2 separate regions of the Homo sapiens genome follow, and region 2 is linked to region 1. The links come from fine-mapping of genetic effects on plasma protein levels. Region 1 holds a variant in brackets. A gene starts in the other region. All regions are shown on their forward strands.

Region 1 (15,281 bases):
GAATATGTTTCCACACAATCCGCCAATATGGAACTTTATAGTTTTTGTAATTTTTGTTGGCATAATGAGTATGGATGGTGCACTTTATTTTTTTAATTTACGTATAATTATTTTTTAGCTAAATGCTTTTCTCTGGGTATATACACTGTTTTTTTCCTGTGCAAATTCCTTGATTTTGTTTAAAGGTTTTTATAATGATTCATTCATTATTTGTGTTTAAGGCAATGCATTTTTATTCTGCCGCATCTGTATTTTGGGGCATAGATGACTAAAACATCATACATTGCTTTTTTCTATCCCCCATTTATTATGTTGACAATAAAGGTTTATCAGCGGAAAATTAGAATAAGGTTGTTTTTATGTTCAAATTGAAGGGCATGATTCAGGCCAAGAAAGCACTTTTGCCTCATTAATTGGGTGTTAACCGGTGAATGTGGGTTTTTAGTCTGAATTAACAGAATGATTACTTCATACACCCCTTTAAGTAGGAGTTTTACCGTTTGGGAGATAACTTGCTGGGATAAATTTGTATTACTCCAGACTTTAGAAGTACATATTGTAAAAAGGCAAAGGCATAAAATAATAGAAAGGTAGATTAAAAAGGGGAAATCATTGAAATCCACAGAACACTAAAGAGTGTTTAAGCAAACAAAACAGTCATGGACTTTTGGTATCTTCTGTTTTCCCCTCAGTAATCAGCAATCTGAGAAGAGAAGTTGTCTAATTAAGGGCTGTAACACTTCAGCATATCCACTGTAACCTAGGGAAAAATAAGGTGGGTCCACAGTGTCCACTCAGTCCTACTGATCTCCTCTGAGCAGCCCCCACTGCATGTATAGCTCATAGGTTAGATTTTGCTGGTGAAGGTAGGTGTTATGCTTACCCTTATTTCATACATGAGGAAAGGTTTAGAAGTGTGAAGACCTGTCAAAGGTCACACAGCCAGCGCCGCCCTCAAAGGAAAGCTCTTTGGGTAACCCAGTTTCATTCTCAGTTATTAAAAATCTGAAACATACTACAAAGTACAAAGAACGCCTCATACACCCAGCAACTAGGTACAAGAGCTATCAATATGTAGCCATATTTCTATCTATACTTTTTCTTTGCCGAAGTATTTGTATGCTCATTTTGCTCCTGTGTACTTCAATATGCAAAATGAACACATTATCTAAATAGTGGGCCCTTTTTTTTTTAGATAACCATAATGCCTTTAATCACTTAGTAAAATAATTCTTTGATATCTTCTAATACCCAGCTTATAATCAAACTTCTTTGATTATTTCAAATAATTGGTTTACTTGAAATGAGATTCGAATAGGATTCATTTTATTTTGTTGTGATCTCTGTTAGGTCTCTATAAATCTTTCTTATTAAAAAAATTTTTGTTTTTTGCCACTCCCTAACTCATAATTTCCTTCTCAAACTAATCTTCGATTTGTCCTCTTATACAATTCCACAAAGCAGATTAAGACTCTTCCCCTCAAGAAGCTAAAAATTTAGGGGAAGAGAACTTTACTTAGTTAGGGCATGGGGAATCAGGGATACCACCTAATAAGGAAATAGAAGTACTTAATATATTTTTAAAATCATATTTTAAAATATGTTTTTAAAAGCCTATCTTGAGCAATACTTATTTGGACAGTGGATTTGTATTTCAAATACATCATAGCCTGTGTTTCAAGGTTAAAGAATAGAAATAGAACTCTACCTTTTTACGGTCAGCATACATTTCTAGATATCTTACTCCCTTGATTATTGGTAAAATCCATTTCATTGTTCATCACCAATGTATACAGACAAACCTAGATTTCATTCTGTCCCATTCTCCCATCATAAGGAAAAGGCTTTTCCTGGTGTAATTCACCATGAAGTATTCTTGACACCACAAGGAAGCACACTGAAACATTTAGAATATGAGCCATTCTGTAGGAAGGCTATGCCAGGTTCTGCAACAATCCTCTCTACCACTGGGTAAGCTGAATATCAATAGACAAGTCACTTAACCTCCATGGATCTCAAGGCTGTAACTCAAGGCATTCTTCCAAGTATTTGGAATGTAGCTATTTTCTTATGTGTTATTTAGTCCTGTCCTAGAAACAAATTTTGAAATAAAAATCTTATACCATAGGTTATGTTTCAGCAATAAAGTTGGCCATACCATTAGCCAAGTAAACACAGTGGTTAGAAGTGAGGAAATCATTTGAGGGGTTCGGTGGTAGGGTGATAAAGTATGCCTTTCAAGCATTTAACGTTATAACTCTTTCAATTTCCCAAAATAACAAAATAAGATGGTAATTTGAAATTAAGTGTTTTAGCATTGCTATTGCTTTTTAATTATTTGTTTACAAGACTTTTAGGTATTTATTTCTACCATGTATTTTACTATTTACAGTTATCAAGGAACAGTTAAGAAGTTTTGTTCTATGAATCTATGATGCAGTAATTTGTTCAGTATTAATTGATACCTGCCTCTAGGCATGTAAACTGTGTGAAACGTAACAGGTGTCCTAATTCTAGAAAAATGTGTGGTAATTGTTTGTTTGTCAAACAGATGAATAAATATCTTTAGGGCATAGCTGGTCCTCAGGTGGTGAGCATAAATGGATTAATGATGTGAGTGACTCGGGGAGACACGCTTGTTTTGCAGCACCCTCCTCCGCCGATCGCTGAAGCAGAACAAATACTAATTAACAGGGGCGGCCTGGTTGGCAGGTTGGCTTTCTCCAGCTGATTTGGCAAAATGGTTTATTCCTTTCCCTCCATAAACCATCCCTCTTAGTTATTAGACATTTTCATACTGATGTTTAGTTAATTTCTAATTTTCTTAATTAGGATGCATTTCATCTCTTGCAAAAATATTATAACGTTTATAGTTAACATTTTTAAAAATTTAGAGGGGCCTAAGATTTAAGTTTTAATAGTTGACGCTTGAATTTCAAAAACATTTGTTTCTCAAAATGTAGATAATTCTTCCAATGGAATTATTCCAAAGAATCGTTCACCATCTTTTTTTTGTATTCTTACAGTAACACTAACCCCACTCTGGAAAAATTATAAAATCACTCATGGGGTAGTTTAATACTCTTGTTCTTCTTTCTTGAATTATTTCTGCAACACTTTCCTCTGTCCAACTTATGTATTTTGTTCTGTGGTGATTTGAAGTAGCTCAGCTATCTTCTGGGTTAAAAGACTTTCTACGCGTAGGACCCACCACTTTAATAAGGGCTGTAATTTTGGACTTAGAGAGTCATATCTGATTACTGCCATGGCAACTGCCTTGTGAAAGGGTTGAAGAGAATTCAGGCTTCATGAGAGAGTAATAGAAAGGAAGTTTGCTGAGGAGCTGAGTAGTACTTTCTGAAAGAGTTTTTGATGCTTTTAAATAAGGTTGCTGTTAAATGAAGATAATACAGTTATTTCAAAACTCAGTAATGCTGCTTAGACTTGGCAAATCAAAACTTGAAATGTTAGCATTGAATACTTAGTTGTTTTTCTTTGAATCTAAATATTGAATAAAATAAGTCACATTGCTTTAACTTTATCAGATTATTCATTATTTAGAACCAATCCAATTATTTTTGTATGTAATAAATTTTACTGCTTAAAAACAGTGTAAGCTGAGAGTTCTAGTATTGTAATGTAACATAAGAAATTCCCGCTCATTTGTGATAGTTGGAATTGGTGGTTAAGTACCCTCCTCCTCCCAACCCCTGGGTTCAGTTTTGCCTCTAGTTTTCCTTCACTAGAAACTGGAGAACAACACACACATACATGTAATCCGCTCACGTGCGGTCCACCTTTCTTCCTTCACACTGTTTAATATTCCATCCCCTCTGCATCCACTAAATGTTCGTGAAAAGCTTACACTTTCCCTCCCCTTTTACAGAAATGCAGGCAGTGAGGTGGAAGTTAAAATGTCTTAAGTATTCTTGTTGTAAGTGAACTTTCTAAGATATGGTGATAAGGGTGAGCATGAGGAATTCTTTTTCATGGAAATGGACTCATTATTTAATTGTATCATATCCTGAAGGATTCTTGAATCTTCTTTTTTAAATTGCTACTTTTCAAGTTGCTGACTTCAAATTTGAGAATAGAAGAGGGCTGGGAGAGGGGAGGTAAATAAGTTAGTGATGCCACCCAGTGAGAGAAGCCAGTAGGCTTATATAATAAGATCTCCTTGTTATTTATTGCTCCTTATGGTCATTTTAATTATTCTAGAGAATTTTGAGAATTCTATTCACTTATCTTTTTTTAAACTTCTGTTTTTGTGAGCGACATTTGGCCTTTTGAACAACAAAATAAAATTGGAAATGCTAATGTTTTGAGCCAACTAAAGGAGGAAAATAAAAATGTCACCATGGTAACAAAGCTGCTTTCTAGATGGTTTCCTAAGATATGCCTGAACTAGAAGCAGATGTCTGATTTGAGAATCTTGCCTCCTTCGATGTAAACAAATAACTTCTGGGCAGGTGTTGGAAATAATATGGAAATCCTATTAAGGGGCCCCGGGTTCCTGTCAGTCAGGAAACCCGTGCCACAAAAGGGCTGGTTGTCGCATAAAGGAGCAGAGTAAATTCTCATTAGGCTTGAGCTTTTCCCAGGAAATGATTGTCTCCGTGTGTTCTTTCTCCTGTGAATCTGAATGTAAGCTGTTGCTTCTATTGATCTATTCACTGGCTTTATTTTTCTCCTCTTCATTCCAGATCCTCCCTCGCCCCCACAAGCCTGTGTTCTCCCCCTCACCCACCCCTTCCCTTTAGATTAACACTTGATCTGTGCTACTGCTCTGAGAGTCGTGACATTTGTGATTTTAACCTCCCAACCTGGGTGGGGGTGGGGGTGGGGGTGGGGGTGGAGAAGGAGGGGAAAGTTAGTCTTGTTCCCTCAGCCTTTTTCACAAAGACTCTGGCTGATTGGGACTCGCACAGCTAGCGGCAACGGCAATCATGAAGACCATTCTGTGTACATTTACTTGAAGTTATATTTTTATGAATTAAGCAGAAACTAAAAGCTTGAAGAGACAGCTTTTTAGGAACTTTTAAAAACATAGATAGTTGTCTGGTAAGCCTCTGAGGCTGCCCTGTCCAATATGGTGTAGCCACTAGTCACATGAAGCTATTTAAAGTTAAAATGAAATAGAATTTTCAAACCCATTTTCCCAGTTATATTAGCCACATATCGAGTCCTTAGTAGCCACACGTGGCTGTAGAAACTGCCAAAACGGCAGAGATACAGAACCTTCCCACTGCTGCAGAGAGTTCTATTGGATGATGCTGCGTCTCTGACAGACTCTGATGAGGCTTGCTGGTTCTGACATTCCTTCTGGCTAAAACTGACTCCTGATACTCAAAAGCAAGGTTCCCCTGGTTTCATAGAAAACAAGGCATGTGTGTATTCGGGTTTGGGTGGTTGATGTGGTTAGCTGCACTAATATAGTAGTGATCTTTAAATGGTTGTAGATTTTTTTTTTTTGGTCACGGAACTGGTTGAGCAATATAAACATGGGTCTTCCCAAAATGGACCCCTAAGAGATGCAATTTAATGTTTCTAGATAGAAAGTTGTGGCAGTTTTGGGGGGAAGGGAGGAGTGCTTGAAAGCTATGCATAAGGGTGCTCTTTATAATACTCAGAAGGTTAAATGTGGATAAACACAAAACAAGGCTTCAGAAAAGCCACACTATTATTATGCAGCGTTTCTCGGACTATAGTCCCCGAGACGCACTTCATAAAGCCAATAAAGCGCGCACTGGTGGTCTCCCGTTGCCCTAGCAACGGGCCACGGGGCACAGTGTATGTGAAATGCATGAACATCTGTGAATTAATCTTTTTTAGTTTGTTCTTTTCTTGGCACTGATTGGACCACTCGGGCTTGTGCCTGTGACACTGCGTGCAGAGGGGTAATCTGGAGCAGTCCCCAGGGCCTTGCCCTAAAGTGGATAGTGGAATGGAAAGTGAAGGGAGATTTATCCCGGCAGTGCATTCAGCAGTGCAGGGATTTAGCCTGACAGCACTCTCAGCGGGATGTTATTAGCTTACTTTCTGGTGCATGGGGAAATGAATAAAAATTTTTCTAGTAAATCTGGGCATTATTGGGTTTATTGGGTTGCCCTGAAAAAATAATCTGCAGAGAAAATTGAAATAATCACTTGTGTTTGTACCACAGTTATCAGGACTTGAAAGCTGAGTTATTCCACATCCTTGGCCCAGCCCCCGCCTCAGGGATTATAACCAAACCATATTGGACTGTCACTGCTCTGAATGAGACTCCTGAATTGGATGCGTAGGCTGGAATCTGATTTGATGATAAAATCTGTTAGTAACCTAGTCTGACCTTATTTAGGGAAATTTTAAACTAAGCTGGTGACATTTTTGCCTTTGGGAGAATAGAGCAAATAATGACTAAATACGTAAGCGTCCAGGAACAGTACTTTTGTTAGTTAGTCCCCCACCCCTGACCTCTTCTGTTCTTTCCCTCCTCCTGCCTCCCGCTGCCACTTCTTCCCTCCCTCTTTTCAAATTGCCATCCTCCTTCTAGACTTCAGCATGACTGTACAGACTGTGTTCAGTTCCTCCTGTCAATACCAGATGTTCACTTGTAAACTGTTTTGCTCACCCTTGTCATTTTCAATTC[C/T]CTTCTCTTTTCTTCCTTTTTTCTCTTTGTGCCTCCCTTTTTTTTTCTCTCTCCATTCTTCCTTATGGGTCAACCCTCTTTCCTGGGGAGAAATGAAAGAAGAATATTACATATGAAATGTTTCACGATGGATGTAGTCTATTTGGTTAATTGTTAGGGTGAAAATTTCCTTTATAACAAATGTATTAAAACAGAAGTTCGATTGCATTAGTACTGAAAGGTATTTAGGTGGGAAGAACTCCTTGTCAATTCTGTATATGTTTTCCTTTGATTATTAAAAAGGCACAGCTATACCTCTGTATGTAGCTGAGAGATTTTTCTGATTTGTTTTTTGTTAGACAACTGACTAAAAATTATATTAATGGTTCCTGACTTTGAAACCTGTTGGTATTGACAGATGAACTTGCAGTCCAAATAAAATATTTAAATCAGTAGGTATTGATTCAGCAGCTGGAGGGCAAACAGGCCTGTACTGCATTGGGGGTGCACAGTAAAGATTAGATACAATCCCTTCCTTCAAATCATGTTCCTGTTAAAATATGGAATTGCGATATGCTGCCTTCTGAGTAGAATAAAATATATTAATGGATCGTTCCTCTTCATTTCTCAGAGCTTCTGGTGAGTCCTGAATTCTTTAAAATGTGCATATAAAACCAGTTTATGATGATGGGAGGACTAGCTCTGAAGGCAGTCTTCCCAGGAAGCTGCCCGGGCTGATGTGCAAATGCATGCAAACATGAACCTTTAGCAAACACTGACAGTAATGCCAGTGGCAACGTTCTGTCGACTCCCAATCGGGATATGGGCCTTTTACTCGAATTCAGAAAGTGTTTTGTAGGAATCGGCAAAACAATTGAACTACAGAGCTAAAATATTTATCATCTGATTTTTTGGCACTTGAATACCCTCACTTGCTTTTCAGGTGGTTTCTCTGTTTTCAAAATTAGTAAATAATTTTATTTGTTTTTTTGCTGCTCCCATTTAGCTCTGATGATATTTTCTTCTTTCAAGAGTATTTTTAAAAATTGCCAGCTTTCTAGTTGTTACTTGAAGCCAGCTTCAGAAGTAGAACAGTTAACACGGATTATTAGAGACCTTTAGAAGGAAGTAAAATTCTCAAATTTTATTTCTATGTCTTGGACTGTTATTTGGTTTTTGAAAGCACAATTTTTTATGCCAAGAACTAAAAATCTGTAGACACTGGTGGTAAAAAGTAGAAATTCCACAATTACAAGTGGCAGTGAGTAAACTGGCTAGAGTGAGAAGCAGGAATGAGGTGGAATGAGTATGAATCTCTGCTGTTTCCTTCATCTGTGTGTGTGTGTGTGTGTGTGTGTGTGTGTGTGGGTGGGGTTTTTTTTTTTTGTTTTTTTTTTTTTTTTTTTTTTGAGAAGGAGTCTCCCTATGTCACCCAAGCTGCTGCTGGAGTGCAGTGTCATGATCTCGGCTCACTGCAATCTCTGTCTCCTGGGTTCAAACGATTCTCCTGCCTCAGCCTCCCAAGTAACTGGGATTATAGGCACGTGCCACCACACACCTGGATAATTTTTTGTTTTTGGTATTTTTTAGTAAAGATGTGGTTTCACCATGTTGGCCAGGCTGGTTTCGAACTTCTGACCTCAGGCGATCCACCCACCTCAGCCTCCCAAAGTGTTGGGATTACAGGCGTGAGCCATCACGCCCCACCCCTTCATCTATTTTTAACAGTTTCTTAAAATCTCTGTCATGTTCCTATGTACTAGGCTGGTAAATAGCCATAATTCTTGAATTTTATTTTTAACTTTTCTACTCTTACTGTGTTTTAAAAGCAGTAATAGAAATAAAATCAGCACTTTAATTAGTGTTGTAGATATGTGTATCTATAAAAGTGAAAATGTTTAGGGGAAAAAAATGCTGCTTGTTTTCTTAGACACACAACATTACATGGAAACATTTGGTGATTGCAGTGGCTTCAGCATTTTAAGACTGGGCTACCAAAAACTGTACCTGATACTTAACCTGTTGGGCCTACCCAGGGACAGTGAAAGAGTCCAAATGGAGGCCCTCATACCATACACTGAAGTATTTAAAAGTTATAAATCCAATAAATAAATACACCTTAGTGATAACCTGAAAGACCAGGTTGGAATTTAAAATTCTCAGGCACTTTGGAGTTCATTGCTTTAACCACGTGGGTCCTCACGTATTTTCTTGTACACACCCTAGTTCTTACTTCAAAGCTTCATCGAACCCCTACAGCTGCGCCCAGATCTAGACACACTCAAACCAGCAGCTTGATCTAACCCTGGGAGGCTTCAGGAAGAGGACTGAGACTGAGTAAACCCTGGAAGTGGGCCTGGGGTGTTAGGGCAGGGAATTTCAGGGTCCTGGGTACCCAGCTCATGGTGTAGAGGCCACGGACAAAGGCTGTGTGTGGGCATGCCCCCTTGGTCTTACAGGGTGTTGCTCAGCCAACTGAGGGCCAGGGCCCACGTCAGGGGCCCTTCTCCTTCTCGCCAGGCTGCTTGGTTTGTACATGATTTCATAAGCTATACACTTAAGAGGAAAGAAAGGGAACTTAGAACTGTTTTATCTTAAAATAATTCTTTGTTAAATAAATGTCAATAGTTTTAATCAAAATTCATCCAGGGAATTCTAAAATATAACATACATATACACATATATATATGTATATAAAACATTAAAGATAATCTCTAGGAACAGCTGCTTTGACACTGTGTTTTATAGTCTGTTTACGGATGTGTATGTTTTTAAAATACTCCATTAAAAATCCGAAATGCGTATCCTGCCTATTGGAAGTGCTTGTGAAAGGAAGGTGGGGAGTTGGGGTACCATTTAAAGCTGAGCAAGGTAAAGATAGTGTGGAGCTTCGAAGTCAGGATTTTCTACACGACCCCACCCTCAATCTGGTCCACATAGTAAAGATTGGATGCTAGTGAAAATGCCAGGCAAGGGTTAGGCCTAAAAGGATTAGTCATGAAGATTCGAGATTCTTAAACTAAAGATTATCACTGGGAACTAACTCGGGTCATGATTTCTCTTTTCATCTGCCTTTGTTCCTTTTATGCACTTCCACAGTTGGACAGCTGGAAGTGCCACAGAAATATTTGAAGAGCCCTATTTAGTAGTTTACGTGAAAAGTCGTTGAATAATTCACATAACAAATGATTAGACAAGCACTTGTCCATCTGACTGAATTATTCTACATGTTTGCCCAAGCAACAAAGGAGAACAGCGTTTCCTCCTACAGAGGGTATACAGTGGTGGTATTGACCCATCTAGTTACTGGGTGGGTTTCAGTCTTTTGTTGACATTGTTGTTAATGAAAGCAGCCCAGACGAGCTGTGAGCAGCTGGGCTGGATAATTGTGAAGGATTCATGCTTGTTGCTGTTACCCCCAGTGTTTGCAGTGGGTTGTTTGCTTTGACTTTTGTTGAACTGTTGACAAAAGCATTAGATACAAATGGGAACAAATAAAGTGGTGAGATGCCAGGAGGGCTTGGCAGGAGTAGTGGTTTTCTTTCTGACTGAAGTGGAGGATGTCGGAACGTATCTAGATGGGAAGTGGAAGGTGTATTCGGTGTGTGTGTTTAGCAGTTTACCCTTCCGATACCAAACTGGAAAATTTTGTTGCTTATGTACCTTGGCTCACAGAGGTGAGAGAATCAAGGAGGTCACCGTATCTTGTAACCCTCAAAAAGCCACGCTCTTTACCATGCCAGTCAGGTGGCTTGCAGGCCAAGAATGTTACAACAGAAATAGTTTCCAGATTCCCCCTCCTCAACTTAAAACAAAATTTTAATAATAGAAGTATTTTGGACTGGGGAGATGACAGGCATGACGTTGAGGTGGGGAGGATTAAGAAGAACAGTATATGCTAAAATAGTATAGCTAGCAAATGGAAGTCATCTACTGGAACGCTTTTAATTTGCTTTAAACAAAATACTCTTTTGTATATTCAAATGGAGAGTAGCTCAGCTGTTGTGAAGCCAGAAAATTAATGGTATTTTTAGTGAAATAGCAAAAGCATGTCAACAATGTAGCTGCAGATGATAATGCTGGCATTTTATTCATGAGGAATTATCAATGCAGGTTACTGGACAACATAGTGTGACTGAAAATGATTGAGTGTCGGAGAAGCCCGCCATCCTTCTGCTCGATTATTTCATTTTGCATTTAGGCTTCCCCAGGCTTCATTTGTGCATGTATTTTCCCTATCACAAACCAAAATATAAAGTCTCCCTGGCTTAGGATTGTATGCATATTTTTTCTTCCTTTAAAATGTCTCCAAATGAAAGTTCCCCTTGAGTATTGACTCAGAAGCTGAGGAGTTCATTTTCAGTGCACACATGGTCAGTGGAGGTGGTTAGGCTTCAGAGATAGGTCCCTCTGAACAGTTTATCTAAATAGGTCTATGGCAGTTGTTTAAAAGCCAGCAAAACTCACCACCGTTTGATAGATGGAAATTGTCACAGAATATGCCTTCTCTGACAAGTAGAAGATTTGGAATAAGTAGTGAGGCCAGAAAAATGTTTAAAAAACATGGGCAAGAATAGGCAGAAACTGTATTTAGGCAATTAAAATGTCTTTTGGAAGAGTGCGTTTCAGTGATAGTTGAAGAGTTACTAAAAATATATTTGAATAGTCAGGAAAATTAAGCTATGTCTTTTTTTTTGGCCTGCAGTTTTGGTCTGAGGCGCTCTGGGCACCATCACTCACATTGTTTTGTTGGTATTATTTCACCTAGTGTCTGAGCAAGGAAGAGGCTAAGGCTTCCTTTCAACATTCTGTTCTCCAACCTCATTTATTGGATTCCCCTCTGCTACTGGTGACAAAAAGAATGGATTATACCTTTGTGTAATTGTGCTTGTTCCAGTACTTCATGTGACCAAATCTAGGAAAGAATAGGAATTTACTGAGTTTGTTAAAAGTGGGAATGGCCCAATTGTTTTAGTCTTTGCAGCATCTTAATCCTAGAGAGCAGTGACCAGTGAGAAGAGGTCAGGATTTTCTCAGAAATGGGGGCATGCGTTACATGGCTGTGCTCCACTCAAAAAAGTTACATGAATGCTCCCCACGTTTCAGCTCTCAGAAGATATTTTGCTTGTTTCAGTACTAGATGGTCAAATGGTAAAGGCCTAGATCTGAAGTTCATGAGGAAGAAACCCCTGAAATGACAGACACTGAATGGGGATAAATGCATCTATGTGATTAAGTAGTTGGTAGTTCTTCCAGGGTTTATTACTCAAGAGAGGAGGTAGGGAAATCGTGCAAGTAGAAAACTTGAAAAGACTCACCTTAGAGGGGATAGCTAAAGAGTAAAATGAGTAACAGTTAAATAAGAAAAAAAAAAGAAAGAAAAAAAAACTTGAGAAGACAATAAGGCAAGAAGTTTATCACCATTAACAAGCCAGAAGAAAGAAAGAGACTACACCGACTTGACTCAGCATGACTCCAAAATTATGAGACCCTGGGCAAAAGCACAACAAAAGGCTCACAAATGAAAAGAATGAGTTCAAGAGAAATTTACTTAGGCCACGTCAAAAAGATTGGTACACTGCACCCTCAGGCAGTGACCAGAGATGCAAGGGTAAGCATATTTTTGTAAAAGACCTGTTTTACAGACAGATATGCCTCAGTCTTTCCTCCCCCTCCTTTCCCACTGCTCAAGCAGGTATTCATGTTTGCTGTGCTTTTAAAGCTAAAATATCACCCTTGTTAACGGTGACTCAAGGTGACTCTACATACTCTGTTCAAACTGCATTTCTTAAGGTTGGGAAGCTGGTGTGTGTTGGGACCTGTCTACTTCTGTGCATGTGGCATGCTATGAACTCTAGACAGCCAGTAGGCAGGAAACAGTGTAGCAATACCAGCTAGACACTCATCCTCTGGAACCAGGTGGTCTGGGTTCAAATCATGCCTTATGCTATTTACCATCCTTGTGATTTTTGGCAGTCTTCTTCTCTATCTGTGTAACATGGGAGTGGTAAAGTTGCCCAATATAGTAGGTCCTTATTGGTTTTTTTTTTGTTTGTTTTTTTAGTGTACAGTATGAGTAATTTGAAAATGACCTGGTTGTGTTTATTCTTTGGAGGGTTAATATTTAAATTAACTTGCATTCCACAAACAAACACAAAACTAACAGCAGAAAGGAGCAAACTAGAAGTGTGCCAGGCCACAGGGAAATTATTGAGATTAAATTTTGCCTAAAAAAAAATCTACAAAATGGATCTTGTACATGCAGATGGTTGAGAATTAACTTTAGCTGATCCTAGCACATATTTAATTCCATTGGGGATTTTGTGTTTAGGGATAGTTCAACCTTGGCTGAGAATGTGACTTTTATGTATTTTACAGCAAAACTACTTGCTGCTCATAATGGATGAAATTGGAGACCAAAGAGGAAGAACCTTCTGGGTTCCTGTCAGTCTAAATCCTGATTTTAAAAGACATTCACCTGCCATGCTAGTGTTGTGTGCTTCTACTGGTAGGAAAAGCTAATAACTACCCTGACGAGCTCAACGAGTGGCCCGAGGACTGTGATCTCACAGTTTACCGTTTTTGCAGAGAGCCTCTTTTATTTTCGTGTCAGATTATCTGTAAAATGGACTTCTCCCTCCAGTGTTGTAAACCATAACAATTCTGGCATTCCTCTAATTGTGTGGGGAGAGGGAGTATACCCAACAGATGCTTGTCGAGCAGGAGAGACTCTTGCTGCTTTTCATTATTTTACTACTCATACACCTAATCCCTGTCAATAAGGTTGGCTGTTTGGGGAAAGAACACACATCCCTGCACTATAATACTGATTTATTTGCAGCTTCTTTTCTTCAGACCGAGTTAACTGAGGAGTCTCACAAGGCAGTGAGTCAGCCTTGCTATGGACTTTGACAGAAGTATATCTGAAGGGAAGGGAGTGATTGCAGTATTCAGGGTGCTGGGGAACAGCAGACCTGGTTCAGCAAGGGGAGGTTAAGGACTATACTCCCACCCCTACTCAAGACATGAATGCCTCTCATAGTGTGATCCCTGGTTGCTTTGTTTTCAGTGAAGATTAGCCTCAGTTTCTCCGTTAAAAAAAAAAAAAAGTCAGTCTGGAAGATTTTATACGGCCTATGCTTTTTAGGCCATTGAAACAAAACACTTTTTTTTTTTTTTTTTTTTTTTTTTTTTGCAGAGGTGGTGGTGGGGGAGGGGGGATGCCCTTTCAGTGATTAGTGCCCTGCTACATAGTTGTCTTCCAGAGCTACAATGTCAAGGAGCCCTCCTGTCCTGGGGAGAGAGGGTGCGCAGAATGGAAATTCAGCTTGCTCAAAGAGTCATACCAACAGGGCTCTAGCAGATTTCATATTTTCTTAATAAGAATGACAAAGGGGCCAGAGTCCTGGAAAGTAAGATACACACTGGGCATAAGATGGTGTTTGCCCTCATGGGAAGAGTGTGGTTTTCCCACAGGAGAATCCAGAATAACCAACCAACATGGCCAAGTTTCCCACTGTGGGCGGGCAGTGAGGGGCCCCTGAGCAGACAGGATTTCAACTTCCCACATGAGCCAGGGTGGGTCTGGCAAAGGTTTAGGAGATGTCTTTCAAGTGAATCTGTTTTTCTACATGTTTTCTACCTCTGGATGTATAGAGTCAGCTTCCTGCATGACCTGTTTTTGTGAGACAGAGGACCTGGGAAACATGAGGCCATATTTGAGGCGGTTCATTCTTACCAACCGCCAGACCTTTGTTTTTAGAGAAGTGGAATCTTCACCAAAGGCCCAAGAAGCCTTTGTGGGGTCAGCTGTGCTTGAGAATTCTTGAATCTTTGTTACTCTTTATCACCTACCTGAGATGCCACTTTTGCTTGCTTAGCTCAGGTTTGGAATTTGATTTAAGAGGGATTCACATTTCTCTGTTTATCAGAACTTAGCATCAATTGTGTTTCTTTGTAGAGATGTATGTTACTTAAAAGATAAGGGAAAGGAGCATGTGTTTCTGTAGCTCAGAAAACCCTAAGAGGAAGGACCAGATAAAGTGGAAACTTTCTACAGCGACAATTAGAGTTATGTTAAAGAAACAAGTGCAAGTGAGGGCAGGTGGAGCATAGAAAACTCTCAGCACAGGGACTCAATTAAAAATGCTTTTAAAATGTAATTCCAATCAATGTGGATAGTCTTAGAACATTGCAAGATGTGTGAAAACATGCTTTAAATGCCAGCAACCAGTGAAAAGGGCACGGTTTTAGAAACCCTGCTATAAATTATGTGCCTTTGGCTTTCAGGAACGTGGAGGATACATCGCTGAAATATTCAGAATAAATATCAGAGAGAATTGTACAGTCTTTTCATTCTGCAAGGAATGAAATTTTTAAAGAGCTAGTTGTGTTTGGCGTAAGATCCTGAAATTTTTTTATAGTGTCACAACATTTGTTTTGGGAGATGTACAAATCAAATCTGATTATAACAAATATTATAACAAAAATATCCCTCTAACCAAACAATTTCTAGACCCCAACCAGTGGTCCACTTATTTAAAACAATATTGAATGTAACCCAATTCCATTAAGGCAAAATAATGTGAGTTAGTCTTGGAGTTTTTCTTTCATGAGTTCCTTACCTTTTGGAATTCATATAGGCAATTGGCAGTGATTCCAAAAATGTTTA
Region 2 (15,281 bases), not on the chromosome of region 1:
GGCACCATCCTTAGACTAGACCTCCTGGGCTTCACACTTTAGAGGGCCCTCACTGGCCCTCCTGTGACTCCATCCCTTCCTGTGGGACTGGGAATCTCCAGGGCCAAGGTGATGTGCTCACCCCAAGCCATACCTGCCCTTCTAGACCATCCTCTGGGTACCTGGGAGCCCAGATCGTCCACCCAGGCAGCTGTACACCTGTCTTCCCCGGGCCTGTCCCCTGGGTGGCAGACCCTGCTCCTGGTGTGCCCACCCTGAGGCTCAAGTGGTAGCCATGGGCAGAGGTTGGGGGGGTGAATGGAGGGTGTGGACCATGCTGAAGGTGTCCTCACGTGTCCCCCAGGCTCCTCAAGGTGCAAGACTGAGCTGAGGGAAGGGAGCAAAGGGAAGTGAGCTCAAGAGGAACTAGCTCAGGCCTCTGCAAACTTTGAGGGGTGGGCCTGTCTCTGGGGTCTTCTGCTTGTCTTACCTTTTCTTTTTCTTTTTTTTTTTTTTCTTGAGACAGAGTCTCGCTCTGTTGCCAGGCTGGAGTGTAGTGGCGCGATCTCGGCTCACTGCAACCTCCGCCTCCCAGGTTCAAGCAATTATCCTGCCTCAGCCTAATAAGTAGCTGGGACTACAGGCACCCGCCACCATGCCCAGCTAATTTTTGTATTTTTTAGTAGAGACAGGTTTCACCATGTTGGCCAGGATGGTCTTGATCTCTTGACCTCACGATCCGCCTGCCTCAGCCTCCCAAAGTGCTGGGATTACAGGTGTGAGCCACTGCACCCGGCCCAATTTTTTATTTTTAGTTGAGACGGGGTTTCGCCATGTTGGCCAGGCTGGTCTCGAACTCCTGACCTCAGGTGATCCATCCACCTCAGCCTCCCAAAGTGCTGGGATTACAGGCGTGAGCCGCCGCACCTGGCCTGTCATACCTTTTCTAAGATCATGTTCCTTCTCACTCTCTAAGCACTTGAGATCTTCATACTTCATTGACATCCTTGGCCCAAGTGGTCTCTGTGGCTGCAGGAGCTGAGATGGAGGCAGAGAAAGGGCTCCGAGGGGGAGCCTGAAATAAGGGCTGGAGGTGGGTGTGGAGCTGGTTTTGAGGTAGGAAGTGAGGATTCGATAGTGGCTGAGCCAGGCGTGAGAACTAGGAATGTGGCTGGGGGCTGGGTTTGCAGGTGAGGTTGAAACAGCGATCACAATTGGGGTTGTATCTGGGGTTAGGATGGGGTTGACTTACTTGGGGCTAAAAATCAGATTGGGTCTCAGGCTAAGATTGTAGACAGGGCTCCTTTGGAGTTGGGTCTGAGTTTGGGGCTGAGATTGGAAACATGTGGGATGGAGCATGGGGGTGTAGTACAGCTAGGCTGGAGCTGCAGTGGGGACAGAGATTGAATTTAGGGATGAATTTAGAGCCGACATTGGGACTGCAGTTGGGGCTGGAACTGGGATTGTATTGGTTTGGGGCTGTCCAACCCAATCTGGAAGTCAGTGGAGAGATCATTTCAATCTCCTCCAATAACTAGTTCAATCTGTGATCCATCTTCCCAGTTATTTCCACCTATAACACAAAGTCGCCCTCTCCATATTTTCCCTAATGCCCTCCCTGCCTCCGCCGTCCAGTTACCTGTACAAAACTAGAGAATGTAATTGTTTGCTTTCTTAGGTAGCAGAATTACCAGGTCAGGAAATTCTAGAGGGAACTGACTTGTATTGGTTCTCCTGCTCCCCTCTACATTCTGTGGCCCTGGTAGAACTGTGATCTCACGCTCCTGCTGGGTGGCTTCTCTCCCATGATCCAAAATCTTTCAGACCCAGGGGAGAGAGGCACAGAGCTGCTTGGGTGGATGATCTGGGTGGATGTTCTTTACTTTTGTGCCTTCAGGCTTCAGAGTGGTGATGTCTCTGCTATTCTTAGCCACAGGGACTTCACCAACTTTTGTTGGCTTCCTCAACCCTGCTCACACTCTGTAAATGTCATTAAACTCTTTTCAATAAACCCTTTTGTGGCCAAGCACTGCAGCTCATACCTGTAATCCTAGCAGTTTGGGAGGCCAAGGCAGGACAATCGCTTGAGCCCAGGAGTTTGAAACCACCCTGGGCAACATAGTGAGACCCTATCTCTACAAAAAATAAACTTAGCCAGGCATGGGGGCACACATCTATAGTCTCAGCTACTCAGGAGGCTGAGAAGAGAGGATTGCTTGAGTCCAGGAGTTCAAGGCTGCAGTGAGCTATGATCGCACCACTGCATTCTAGCCTGGGTGACAGAACAAGAACCTGTCTCTCTATATATATATGTAGAGAGAGAGAAAGAGAAATAAATCCTTTGGTTTTGACACCTGTATCTTGCTGGAACTGATTAAAAAAAAACCCTTTGAATAAAATTATAAATGTTTACTATGGTACACAGAAAAATAAAAAAGAATAAACTCCATTTGGAAGTCTAACAGGCTCCTCAAACTCAACATGTTCAAAATAAAGCTTCTTATCTCCTCATCCCACCCACAAAACCAGCTTCTCACACGGTCTTCCCATCTTAATTAACTGGGACTCCATCCTTCTAGGTTTTCAAGCCCCAAACCTGGAATTATCCTTGACTTTCTCATTTTCCCAAACCCCTCAGACAACCCATCAGCAAATCCTGACAGCTAATTCAGACATTCCTATATGCCAGGGAGCTTTCTGGGTACAGTAATACAGCAATGAATGGGTCCTGCCATCCCTTAATGAACTTAAAAAGTTGGTTCTTAATAGCTGAAATGCAGCTGGGTGTGGTGGCTCATGCCTGTAATCCCAGCACTTTGGGAGGCCGAGGCGGGCTGATCACCTGAGGTCGGGAGTTGGAGACCAGCCTGACCAACCTGGAGAAACCCCATCTCTACTTAAAACACAAAAGTAGCCAGACATGGTGGCAGGCTCCTGTAATCCCAGCTACTCGGAAGGCTGAGGCAGGAGAATCACTTGAACCTGGGAGGCGGAGGTTGCAGTGAGCTGAGATGACGCCATTGCACTCCAGCCTGGGCAACAAGAAGGAAATTCCCGTCTCAAAAAAAAAAAAAAAAAAAAAAATCAAAATAGCTGAGATGCTTCCCTGGTATATGCTGGATTGATTGAAAAAACAGAAATCTCCACCCCTCTCTATATCCATTCTCTACACAGTATGACTTTGTAGACCCCCCCCCAACCCCCCACCAAAATGTGGAATCTATTTCTCTGGCCCTTGAACCTGGGCAGCCTTGCAATCTGCTTTGGCCAATAGGATGCAGCAAAAACGATGCTTCAGTTCCAAGCAAGGCTCTGAAGTCCTTGCAGTCTTCCAATTTCTCTCTTGGACCCCCACCCAGCCATTCTGTGAACAAGGCCAGGCTAAGCTAATGTGGCCCAGTCATCCCCATTGTCCCAGCCCAGAGCCAGCCAAATATGAGACATGGGAGCAAGGCTACCCTAGACCAGCCAACCCCAAGCCAACCCACCAGCTGACCACGGACGCATAAACAAGCCCAGCCAAGATGACCCAAACCTGGCCAGACCAGACCTATAGCCTCATGAGCTATAATAAATGCTTACTGTATAAGCCCTGAGCTTTGAGGTGGTTTGTTACACACCAATTGCTAACCAATACACCTGGGGATCTTATCTACATCTCCCAACAACTCTGGGATCTTCAGAGAAATTAAACAATGGCTTTTCCTAATCACCCTAAGTTTATACCATCTTTAAGTGACAGAAAAGATTTGAACTCAAATCTATATGAGAAGAAAATGCTATTTTCTCAATCACATAGGACTTTCGAAGGCTTCACCTGGCTTCTCCACTCTGCCATTTTTAGATTGCCAAAAATCAAGCAACACAAAGTACGTAAGTTCTCACGAGAGTATATATTCACTTATATGAAGTATATACACGAGAGTGTATGATTTCACTTATATGAAGTTCTAGAAGCTCTAGAAGAGGCAAGGCCAATAAATAGTGAAAAAGAAGTAGATCACTGGCCTGGAAACAGGGAAGTGGTTGGACTGCCCAGAGGCATGAGGGGACTGGTGGGGGCGATGGCAATGTTATCTATTGCGATCGGAGTGGTAGTCACCTAGGCATGCATATTTGTCAAAGTCATCTCTACTCTTTAAATGAGTGCATTTTTATTATGTAAAAATTATACCTTCATGAAGTTGACTTTCAAAAGTTGGAAAAAAAATAAAAGCTTAAGAACACTATACCATCTTTTTAAAATTAAAGAGAAAAAAATTCAAAATGTTAGCAGTGCTTCCAATCTCCCAGTGCTTATTTCTCTCCCAGAGCGGTCTTGCGAGGAGGTCGTGAGAAGAGTCCTCCTCCCACCGCCATTTCTGTGGCCGGGTGGTCCCACCAAAGGCAGCTCAGTGACTCTCCTGGCTGGTCTGACCCAGGCCAGCCTCGCAGACCCAGTGGTAGGGCCTCTGGCAGACGTCGTCATTCCACCTGCCGTCTGGATGGAAGTGAGCACAGTCCTCGCCTCCACCCAGCCCGTGCCCCTGCCAGTCGTCTGGCTGGCCTGGCTTCCAGTTCCTGAGAGGAAAAGACAACAGCAAGCTAGGAAGGGTAGATGGAGTAGAATTCAGTTCAGGGGAGGAGAGGCTGCCAGTCAGATCCCTGGGGGAAACGCTGACGGAGGACATTGGCACAGAAAGCCAGGGTGCACTCACTGGAAGCCGGTCGCATAGTCTGTTCCATCCACCCACTTCCAGGCTCCTTCAGGGTCACTGAGGCCCATCCAGGTGTATGCGGAGCCTAGATATTTCTGGACAAAATTCTGCGGTGACAGAAGGGCAGTGGTGACTTCTTCCCATCCCAGCCAACTCCTTAAACTAGTGATTCTCAACTTTAGCTCTTCGTTAAATCAACTGAGGAGTTTGGAGATGTTTCTCTGGATGCTCAGGCCTATTAAATCTCTGAGGGTGTGGCACAGATGACAGTCATTCTGGAAGCTCCCAGATGATTCCAATGTGCGGCCAAGCTTAAGAACCATTTCCCTAAATGGGACATGTCTTAGGAACTGAGTACCAGAAGCCCTCACCTGCTCCTCCCTGGAGTTGATGACCACCAGGTGGGCGTTCTTCAGCTGGCAGTACTTCTCAGCCTCGGCCCAGGACATCCCAGAGTGAGAGAACCAGTAGCAGCTGTCTTGGTGCTCCACCCAGTTGACAGGGCAGCAGGTCCCTTCAGTGGAGGCTGATTGGGGAGAAATAGGATAGGGTGGAGAGGCTGAGGCTCTGCCCAGTGGGCCATGGGCAGAAAAGTAGGGCCAGGTACTCCCCATACCTTCCTCACCATTGTTGTTGAGAGTAGCCACCTGGCAGGTCAGTTTCTTCAGGTCTTGCACCAGCTGCTGGACTCGCAGGAGCATTTCAGAATGAACTGGGACACACACAGATGGGCAGTGGGGACAGTGGCCTAGGTGTGCCTTCTGCGTAGTGTGTTCCTGGAGCTCAGATACCCCTGCACAGGGCCAAGCCAGGGAATGTTCCTTCCCGCCCCCACCCACCCCCTACATCATGGCCAGGTACAGCCATCAAATCTGCTTTGGATTCCTCTGCCCCTGTTTCTCCAGCCTGCTCTCCAGAGAAAGCATGCTGCCTTTCTTTCTTTCTTTCTTTTTTTTTTTTTTTTTTTTGAGACGGAGTTTCACTCTTGCTGCCCAGGCTGGAGTGCAATGGCGCGATCTCGGCTCACGGCTACCTCCGCCTCCCGTGTTCAAGCAATTCTCCTGCCTCAGCCTCCCTAGTAGCTGAGATTACAGGCGCCCACCACCACACCCAGCTATTTTTTGTATTTTTTTTAGTAGAGACGGGGTTTCACCATGTCGATCAGGCTGCTCTCGAACTCCTGACCTCGTGATCCACCCGCCTCGGCCTCCCAAACTGCTGGGATTACAGGCGTGAACCACTGCGCCCGGCCTGCATGCTGCCTTTCAAGCTGCTGGCTGAAGGGGAGGGCAGTTCAGCACCAGGAGTCTGTTCCCACCTCCACTGTGTCTGAGCGCCTAGCCCCCCACACCCATACTCGGAGGGTCTCTCACCTGCCTGCCGTTCCTGCTTGAAACCCTCCACCTCAGCTTTCAGAGATGCTATCGTTTCTTCCAAGCTGCTGCCTGGAGGACACGGAGACTTGGCTTAGGGGTCAACTTCCTCCTCCCTGGCCTGGCCCCAGCCCAGAGCCCCATCCAAACCAGACTCACCCTGGGAAGTCAGTGCCTGGATCTCCGCCACAGTGTTTGAGGTGAAGTTGCTAAAATCTGTTCTCAGGGTCACCAGGTCCCTCTGAAATTTGGAATCTAAACAGGTGGATGGGAAGGTCAGTGCTGGGATTCATCAGGTCCTCTGTACCAGCACCGAGCAGGGCCCTCCATAAGCATTGCCTTATTGGGTCCTCACGGCAACCCAGTGGGGCAGGCACTATTATTGTTCAATATTGCCGATGAGGAAACTAAGCCTCAGAGAGGTGAAGTAATTTGAGTACATAACCCAACTACTCAGTGACAAAGCCAGCAGCCATCCTGACTATGGGTCCGTCAACTCTCTCCATCACTACCCCCACCACCGTCCCCATCAATCACTCCATCAGTGCCCCCCCACCATTCCCATCAATCACTCCATCAGTGCCCCCATCACCATTCCCATCAATCACTCCATCAGTGCTCCGACCACTGTTCTCATCAATCACTCCATCAGTGCCCCCCACTATTCCCATCAGTCACCCCATCAGTGCTCCCATCACCATTCCCATCGATCACTGCATCAGTGCCCCCCACCATTCCCAACAATCACTCCATCAGTGACCCCCACCACCATTCCCATCAATCACCCCATCAGTGACCCCCCACCGTTCCTATCAATCACTCCATCAGTGCCCCCCCACCATTCCCATCAATGACTCCATCAGTGACCCCCAACCATTCCCATCAATCACTCCATCAATGCCCCCCACCATTCCCATAAATCACTCCGTCTGTGCCCCCACCACCGTCCCCATCAATCACTCCATCAGTGCCCCCCTACCGTTACCATCAATCACTCCATCAGTGCCCTCTCCTCCATTCCCATCAATCACTCCATCAGTGCCCCATCAGTGCTTCAGTGGCTCTGTTGTGACCCCCATGACTGTTGGTAGCACTGCCCTCACCATGCCCCATTGTTATCTCCACAGCTGCCCCCAACACTGTGCCCTGCATTGCTCCTACTGTGGACCTCACCATCGCCCCACCACTGCCCTACTGTAGCACCCCATTATTTATCTTCTACCCCATTATTTCTCTCTTCCCTGTCCACCCCTGTGACCCTCACTTTGGAATCCAACCACACAGATGATGACCAGCAGCAGGAGGCCGAGGCCCAGGGACAGCAGGAGATGGCAGGGCCCAGAGCAGAGACGCTGCAGGAGGGACTGGAGAGGAAGTGGCCCTGCAAGAGGAGAGAGTGTCAGGATGAGGAGGGTCCAGACACCGGAGACGGGAGAAGGAGAGGGCCCAGGGAGCTGTCTAGTGAGGAGGGCTGGGCACAGGGGACTCCAGGGGAGGGTTGGACAAGGAGGATTTTGGGGTGGGGGATGCCCAGGCCTTTGACTTCAGGGACCAGCACAAGTCCTCAGTCACACAGGCCCCTCACACCCCTGGGGACCCACGTGATAGCGATATGAGGGGTCCCATGGTCAGAGCTGGGGGCAGGGGCAGGAGGACACAGGGAGAGCTGGGGGCAGCCAGCCCTTCATGGGCTTATGCTCACCTACCTGCTGGACAATCAGGTTCACAAATGAGTTTCCTTCCAAACCCAACTACTTATCTTTCCCTCCACCAATGCGCAGCTCTCATCCCCACCCCACAGAGCATCAGAAGCTGGGTCCACTGTGATCCTCCCTGTCCCAGTCTTTCTAGAGACCTTGCATCCTCTTCACACTAGGCCCGTCAGAGGCTGGGGCCTGACCTCCTCAGAGTTAGGACCCACCAGTGCGCGTGGTGGAGGTACAGAAATGATAGGAGAAATCCTTCTAAACATATAAAGAGGGCATTTTAGGAGAGTTTCCCCTTTCCTCTTACCATTTTTAAACCCCTGGACTTTCACCTTATTCTCCAAGTACTGGAAGTTTTCATACGTCCTTGTCATGCTTGGGCCAACACGGCTCTGAGGTTGTCACAGCTGAAATGGAGGCAGGGCCGGCGCCCAGTCTGGGGTGGAGCTGGGGAATAGGAGGTTGGGACTAAGTTGGAGCCAAGGGCAGGGCTGACGTTGAGTTGGGAGATGAGGCTCAGGTTGAGAATGAGCCCAGGGTTAAGACGGAAATGAGCCTGGGTTTGCAGTCGAGTTAGAATTGGGGTCGAGTTGAGTTTGGGAGTGAAACTGGAGGGTAACGTTGGAGCTAAACGCATTGCTAGGACTACCCAGTGGGCCAGTTAATCAGGCAGGACTGGAGGTTGTATCTCATGCTAGGATTGGGGTCAGTATGCACGTTGGAGCCATGGATGGAATTGGGGTTAACTTTGGTGGTGAATTTGGAAACAGAATAGAGTCGAGGTTCAATTTTGGCTTTGGGCTGGTGTTAAAATTCAAGTTGATTCTGGGGTTGGGGTTGAAGTAGGAGCTGGGTGGGGGGCGACAGGTGCGGTGGCTCACGCCTATAAATCCCAGCACTTTGGGAGACCGAAGCAGACAGATCACTTTAGGTCAGGAGTTTGAGACCGGCCTGGCCAACATGGTGAAACCCCATCTCTACTAAAAATACAAAAATTAGCTGGGTGTGGTGGTGTGCGCCTGTAATCCCAGCTACTTGGGAGGCTGAGGCAGGAGAATCACTTGAACCCAGGAGGCAGAGGTGGCAGTGAGCCGAGGTTGTGCCGTTGCACTCCAGCCTGGACGACACAGTGAGACTCAGTCTCAAAAAAAAAGAAAATGTAGAAGCTGGGGTTAGTATTGGGATTAGGGCATGGCTGGGCTGAGATGAAGATAAGGCTGGAAATGGGCCACCAATGAGGCTGAGTCTGAGTCTTAGTTTATTTTTATTTTTATTTATTTATTTTTTGAGATGGAATTTCGTTCTTGTCGCCCAGGCTGTTGTGCAACGAGGCCGTCTCGGCTCACTGCAACCTCTGCCTCCTGGGTTCACAAGATTCTCCTGCCTCAGCTCCCGGAGTCTTAGTTTATGACAGGGGATTGTGGCTGCCGTAACCCAATCTAGAATCCAGTGAAGGGAACAGAGTCTCAAATCTCCACGTAGTAATTAAACCCCACACTGCCGCCTTATATTTATTTTCATTTAGTCCCACCCAAGACCCAAAGTCCCCCTCTCCCTGCTTCCTCTGACATCCCCTGTCCCCTGGGTCTCACCGGCACCGGCAGCACCATTACCTGTGGGAGGTCTGGAGGGTGTGATTCCCACGTTGGTTGTGCTGCAAGGACCAGAGGTGGGACGTCACTCAGAGTTGGGAGCGCTGTGTCCTGGAGAGCTGGGGTAGAGGTGACTGGAGTCCTGCTGGTCTTGGGTCTGAAATCCCAGGAGCCCTATCATCTGGGACATCCCATCTCCTCAACTTTAGACAGTAAATGAGAATGAACAGGGATTAGAACACACAGAGACCATGTGTGGGTGGGGAGAGTTGGGTTTGAGGCCAGCTCTGTTCTCCTCCTCCAGGCCATGCCTACTTCCTTTCCTCTTCTCGGAGCTTCCTCATTTTTACCATCTGGGAGCAGGGCTGGATCAGAGGTACAATCTGCTGTTGCTCCTCTACCCTACACTTCCTTTCACTTCCTGCCTCTACATTTCCCAGAATTGTTGGGTCTCCATCATCGCACCTCTGATCCTAGAGAAGCCCAGTCTGTTCTCTTGCTCAATCCTGGCCTGAGTCCCTGGCATCAGCATCCTCTGGGTCCCAGTCATTCGGCTGCTCAGCTGTGGCCTCGCTCGCCTCACTCCACTCGGAAGGAGGGAAGGGGGTGCCAGAGAATAGAACTTCTTGGCCCTAATAGGACGGGAGAAGCCAAGGAAAAGAGCAAATTTTATTGAGTAATCTGTGATAGGATTATGCCAGACATTTACCTTCCACAACCATTCCCCCCAAGCACCTGGGGAGGCATTTTGGATGACGGACTAAAGGCTCAGAGCCCAAGATCACTCACAGCTTGTAAGGAGACAGTTTGGCACCCTGCTCTGGCTCTCAGCACAGGCGCTGTCTTCATGAACAGGATTCCATTTCATCCCATGATCCCTGCTCAACCCCTAAGGGAGCTGCCCTGAATCCACGCGCACATCCCTTTCAGTAGGAAGGAAACTGAGTATCTTACAAGGTGGAGAAGGAGAAGAAATACATTTTAGGTTATATTTTGTATGTACATGGGGTTGTGTTCTGCTATGTGCTTTTTTTTTTTTTTTTTGGAGTTAACAAGCTATCAGGAACATTTCTCCACATCAGTTTATAAAATGTACTTGATCTACCTGCACCTCATTTCATCATAGGCACCGTAATTTATTTATTTAGCATTTCTCTATTGACAGAAATAAATCAGAAATTTAAGTTGTTTCTTTTTCTTTTCTTTTTTATTTTATTTATTTATTTATTTTTTTGAGACAGAGTCTCACTCTGTTGCCCAGGCTGGAGTGCAGTGACACAATCTCGGCTACTGCATCTCCTGGGTTTAAGCGATTCTCCTGCCTCAGCCTCCCGAGTAGCCGAGATTACAGGTCCCGCCACCACACCCAGCTAATTCTTGTATTTTTAGTAGAGAGGGGTTTCACCATATTGGCCAGGCTGGTCTTGACCTCCTGACCTCACATGATCTGCCCGCCTCAGCCTCCCAAAGTGCAGGGATTACAGGCGCGAGCCACCGCACCCGGCCAGGTCGTTGCCAGTTTTGTTTTTATTTGGTATTCGGTATTTTGATTAGTATATGTCGCAGGTTCGGTTTTTGGAAGCCAAGGTTGAGGCTGAATTTGGGGTACAAGCTATTTATTAGGGATTAGCACTTCGAAAAGGAAAGTGGATGAAATGGTGCTGGGCAGAGGGAGAAGCCCAGCACTTTGGAGAGCTTCAACCAAACCAACAGGGAGCTCTGGGTTCAAACAATGCCACCCCCGGGAGCTGTCCAGCATTGGACTGCCACAGGGTCCTGTAGAGCACCAGCTCCTTCGGTCACTGGCAGTCAGCCCTGACATGGGTGTGACCTCAGGAAGCAGCTGTCTGCAGGTTACACTCCCCACAGTGGGTCACCACATCCTTCCTAGAAGGGGGACCTGGGTAGCTCTCTGTGTGTCTACCACAGTCTTGCAGTGTATTCACATATTAATTTGGAGATAATCAACATTTTGACATTGTTGAATCTTCCATGAAAAGAACATGATATTTCTCCATTCACTAACTTTTTTTTTTCAGTCTGGTTCAGTGGGTTTGAAGCTTCTTTTTTTTTTTTTAGTTCTGGGATACATGTGCAGAATGTGCAGGTTTGTTACGTAGGTATACGTGTGCCATGGTGGTTTGCTGCACCTATCAACCCATCACCTAGGTTTTAAGGCCCGCATACATTAGGTATTTGTCCTAATGCTCTCCCTCCCCTTGCCGCCCACCCCCTGACAGACCCTGGTGTGTGATGTTCCCCTCCCTGTATCCATGTGTTCTCATTGTTCAGCTCCCGGTTATGAGTGAGAACATGCGGTGTTTGGTGTTCTGTTCCTGTGTTACTTTGCTGAGAATGATGGTTTCCAGCTTCATCTATGTCCCTGCAAAGGACATGAACTCATTCTTTTTTATGGCTGCATAGTATTCCATGGTGTATATGTGCCACAATTTCCTTATCCAGTCTATCATTGATGGGCATTTGGGTTGGTTCCAAGTCTTTCCTATTGTAAATAGTTCTGCAATAAACATACGTCCAATCACTCTTATACACATTTATTCATCCATTTGAGTACTTATTGAGTCTACGGCATGCCAAGCACTTTCCTTCCCAAGAGGCAGAGTTCAGGAGTTCAAAAGTAAACAGACAAAAAAGTCCTGCCTTCATAGAGCTTACCTTCTAGTGGGTCACCAATAAACAAAATAAATGAGTAAAATATACATAAGCCACATGGCAATAGTGCTTTGCGGAAAAAGAGCAGGGATATGAGATAGGGTTGATTTTTAATGTCCCTCAAGAATAGGGCATGTATTAGTCCATTCTCACATTGCTCTAAATAAATACCTGAGACTCGGTAATTTATCAAGGAAAGGGGTTTAATTGCTTCGTAGTTCTGCAGGCTGTGCAGGAAGCATGGTGCCGGCCTCTGCTCAGTTTCTGGGGAGGCCTCAGGAAACTTATGATCATGGTGGAAGATGAAGGGGGAGCAGGTGCCTCACATGGTAAGAACAGGAGCAAGAGAAAAGACAGGGGATCAGATTTTAAATGACCAGATCTCACGGCTGTGCGCAGTGGCTCACGCCTGTAATCCCAGCACTTTGGATGGCCAAGGCGGGCGGATCATGAGGTCAGGAGATCGAGACCATCCTGGCTAACACAGTGAAACCCTGTCTCTACTAAAAATACAAAAAATTAGCCAGGCGGGGTAGCGGGCACCTGTAGTCCCAGCTACTGGGGAGGCTGAGGCAGGAGAATGGCATGAACCCAGAAGGCGGAGCTTGCAGTGAGCCGAGATCGCGCCACTGCACTCCAGCCTGGGCAACAGAGCAAGACTCCATCAAAAAAAAAAAAAAAAAAAAAAAGACCAGATCTCACGAGAACTCCCTCACTATCATGAGAACAGCACCAAGGAGATGGTGCTAACCATTCATGAGAAATCCATCCCATAATCCAATCACCTCCTACCAGGCCCCACCTCCAACATCGGGGATTACAATTCAAGATGAGATTTGGGCGGGGACACAGATCCAAACCATACCAGAGTGTCAAGAAAGGCCTCACTGGGAAGGTGATATCTGAGCAAAGTTTGAAGGAGGTAAGGAAGCAAGTCACAAGGGGCTCTGGCAGGAAGAGTGATGCAGGGAGCGGGCAGAGCAAGTGCAAAGGCCCTGAGGTGGGAGAACGTCTGGTGTGTATGAGGATCATCCATTTGACAGACTTGCCAGAGATTTTATAGAGAAGTGAGTCAGGGAGGAGAAGAGTAGATGAGCGATGGGGGAAAATGTGAGCCTTGTTGGCTGTTATTAAGGACTTGTTTTTACTCTGAGTCAGAGATGCAGACTTTGAAGGGGTTGGAGCAGAGGAATGACATAACCTGACATATGTTAACTGTAACGGTGTGGCTTTTGTGTTGTGAATTTGATGAAACAAGCTGGAAACAGAGAGTCTAGGTAAGAAGCTGCTGTCATATCCAGGTGAGAAATGAGGTGGTCAGAAGTGTTGTGATTCTGGATATATTGTGAAGGTAGAGCAGACAGAATTTCGCTGATAAATTGCTTGCGGGTTTCATGAAAAAAATAGTTCTTCTAGTCCCCAAAATAAACTAAACATTGAGCATTTTCTATAAATTGCTGACTCCCTAGAAAAACAACTCTAACCCTGATGTTTGCAATGCTGACGCCTGGGTAGGTCATGACCTTTCGTGCATATGAAAATCATGTGAGAAAAGCGCTGGGTTTTGCCATCATGAGTAGACTGATAAAAACGTGCTCACAATGGTAATCTTGGAGAATTTCCCTTTCAATACTTGTTGTGGTTTTAGTTTGGCAAGCCTGTCCTTCTAAAGCCTGATTTATTTGCCAGGTCTTGGCAAGCAATCTTCTTTTCTTTCCTAAATGCTTCTGTCCCTGAGACCCCTTTCACTGTTGACAATGATCGTTTCCCTCTTCCGCCACATTTTCCGCAAATTCTTACCCTCTCCTAGAACCGCTACTGGTCAGGACTTTTTTTTTTTTTTTTTAAGCTAGGAACAAGAGAAAGCACGCTCGTGCCACCAGTTCTCCATGAGATTCTTCCAGACCATACAGAAAGACAAGTGATTGGAACATATGAAGGTTGAAAGGGAAAGAGAACTGTCATTATTGGTAAATGACATGATTGTCTACTTTAAAAATCCAAGAGAAACAGCCCCTCCTGGGCTCAAGTGATCCTCCCGCCTCAGCCTCCTGAATAGCTAGGACTACAGGCATGCACCACCACACTAGTTAAACATTTTACTGTGTAGAGAACAGATCTCACTATTGTTCCCCAGCCTAGTCTCAAACTCCTGGCCTCAAGCAATCCTCCCACCTCAGCCTCCCAAGGTGCTGGGATTACAGGTGTGAGCCATCATGCCCAGCCTGTGTTCTCTTCGATAATTTTTATAGTTTCAGCTTTGATGTGTGTCTATGATCATTATGAATTAGATTTTTTCATATATATACAGTTGTTCCAGCACCATTTATTGAAAATACTTTTCTCCATTTAATTATTTCTACCTATATAGTTGATAGAATTCATCAGAGACGTCATCTGAAACTGGATATTTTCTTTGTTGAAAGATTTTAAATTGTGAATTTATTTGAATTCAGGAAAGTCTGTTCAGATTTCCTATTGCGTTTTTAGTTTTGGTAATGTGTATCTTTCAAGTAATTTTTCCATTTTATTCTATTTATGGGCAAATTTATTGGCAAAAAGTTGTTCATATTATCCTTTTGATGTATGTAGGAGCTGTATTTATATTTTCTTTCTTTTTTTTTTTTTTGAGATGGAGTCTCACTTGTCGCCCAGGCTGGAATGCAGTGGCGCCATCTCGGCTCACTGCAAGCTCTGCCTCCCGGGTTCACGCCATTCTCCTGCCTCAGCCTCCCGAGTAGCTGGGACTATAGGCGCCCGCCGCCACGCCTGGCTAATTTTTTTTTTTTGTATTTTTAGTAGAGACAGGGTTTCACCATGTTAGCCAGGATGGTCTCGATCTCCTGACCTTGTGATCTGCCCGCTTCGGCCCCCCAAAGTGCTGGGATTACAGGCGTGAGCCACTGCGCCCGGCCTTATATTTTCTTTCATTCTTAACACTGGCAATTTGGGGGTTTGTTTGTTTGTTTTTGAGACAGAGTCTCACTCTGTTGCCCAGGCTGGAGTGCAGTGGCATGATCTCGGTTCATGCAGCCTCTGCCTACCAGATTCAAGAGATTCTTGCGCCTCAGCCTTCCAAGTAGCTGGGATTACAGGCGTGCGCCACCATGCCCAGCTAATTTTCGTTTTGTTTGTTTGTTTGTTTTTTGAGACAGAGTCTCGCTCATTGCCCAGGCTGGAGTGCAGTGGCACGATCTCGGCTCACTGCAAGCTCCGCCTCCCGGGTTCACGCCATTCTCCTGCCTCAGCCTCCCGAGTAGC

Alleles and levels. Positions count from the first base shown, and alleles are read on the strand shown. Strength reflects both the effect of a copy and how common the allele is.
With allele C in place of T in region 1, the plasma level of the protein whose gene starts at base 9,568 in region 2 is lower (moderate association).

The links. PIP is the chance, under the fine-mapping model, that this variant and not a neighbour inherited with it causes the effect. The UK Biobank Pharma Proteomics Project read protein levels with antibody pairs (Olink). The fine-mapping took linkage between variants from a reference panel, not from the people measured, so its PIPs are less certain.
Region 2: CLEC10A starts here. The variant in region 1 is fine-mapped to the plasma level of the CLEC10A protein (UK Biobank, PIP above 0.99).

The regions. Positions count from the first base shown.
Region 1 is chr9:79,658,221-79,673,501 of GRCh38, forward strand. The region is part of intron 8 of TLE4 (TLE family member 4, transcriptional corepressor); the gene reads left to right. Among named protein-coding and RNA genes, the nearest start is that of TLE4, 94 kb to the left of the region's middle. RefSeq lists an enhancer at 2,985-5,399. The variant C/T (reference allele first, on the strand shown) is at 6,632.
Region 2 is chr17:7,070,684-7,085,964 of GRCh38, forward strand. CLEC10A (C-type lectin domain containing 10A) reads right to left here and starts at 9,568. Exons shown (of 9, transcript NM_001330070.2): 1 at 9,369-9,568; 2 at 8,063-8,202; 3 at 7,314-7,430; 4 at 6,209-6,304; 5 at 6,050-6,121; 6 at 5,302-5,388; 7 at 5,048-5,202; 8 at 4,677-4,783; 9 at 3,854-4,539. The coding sequence starts at 8,129. The coding sequence ends at 4,371.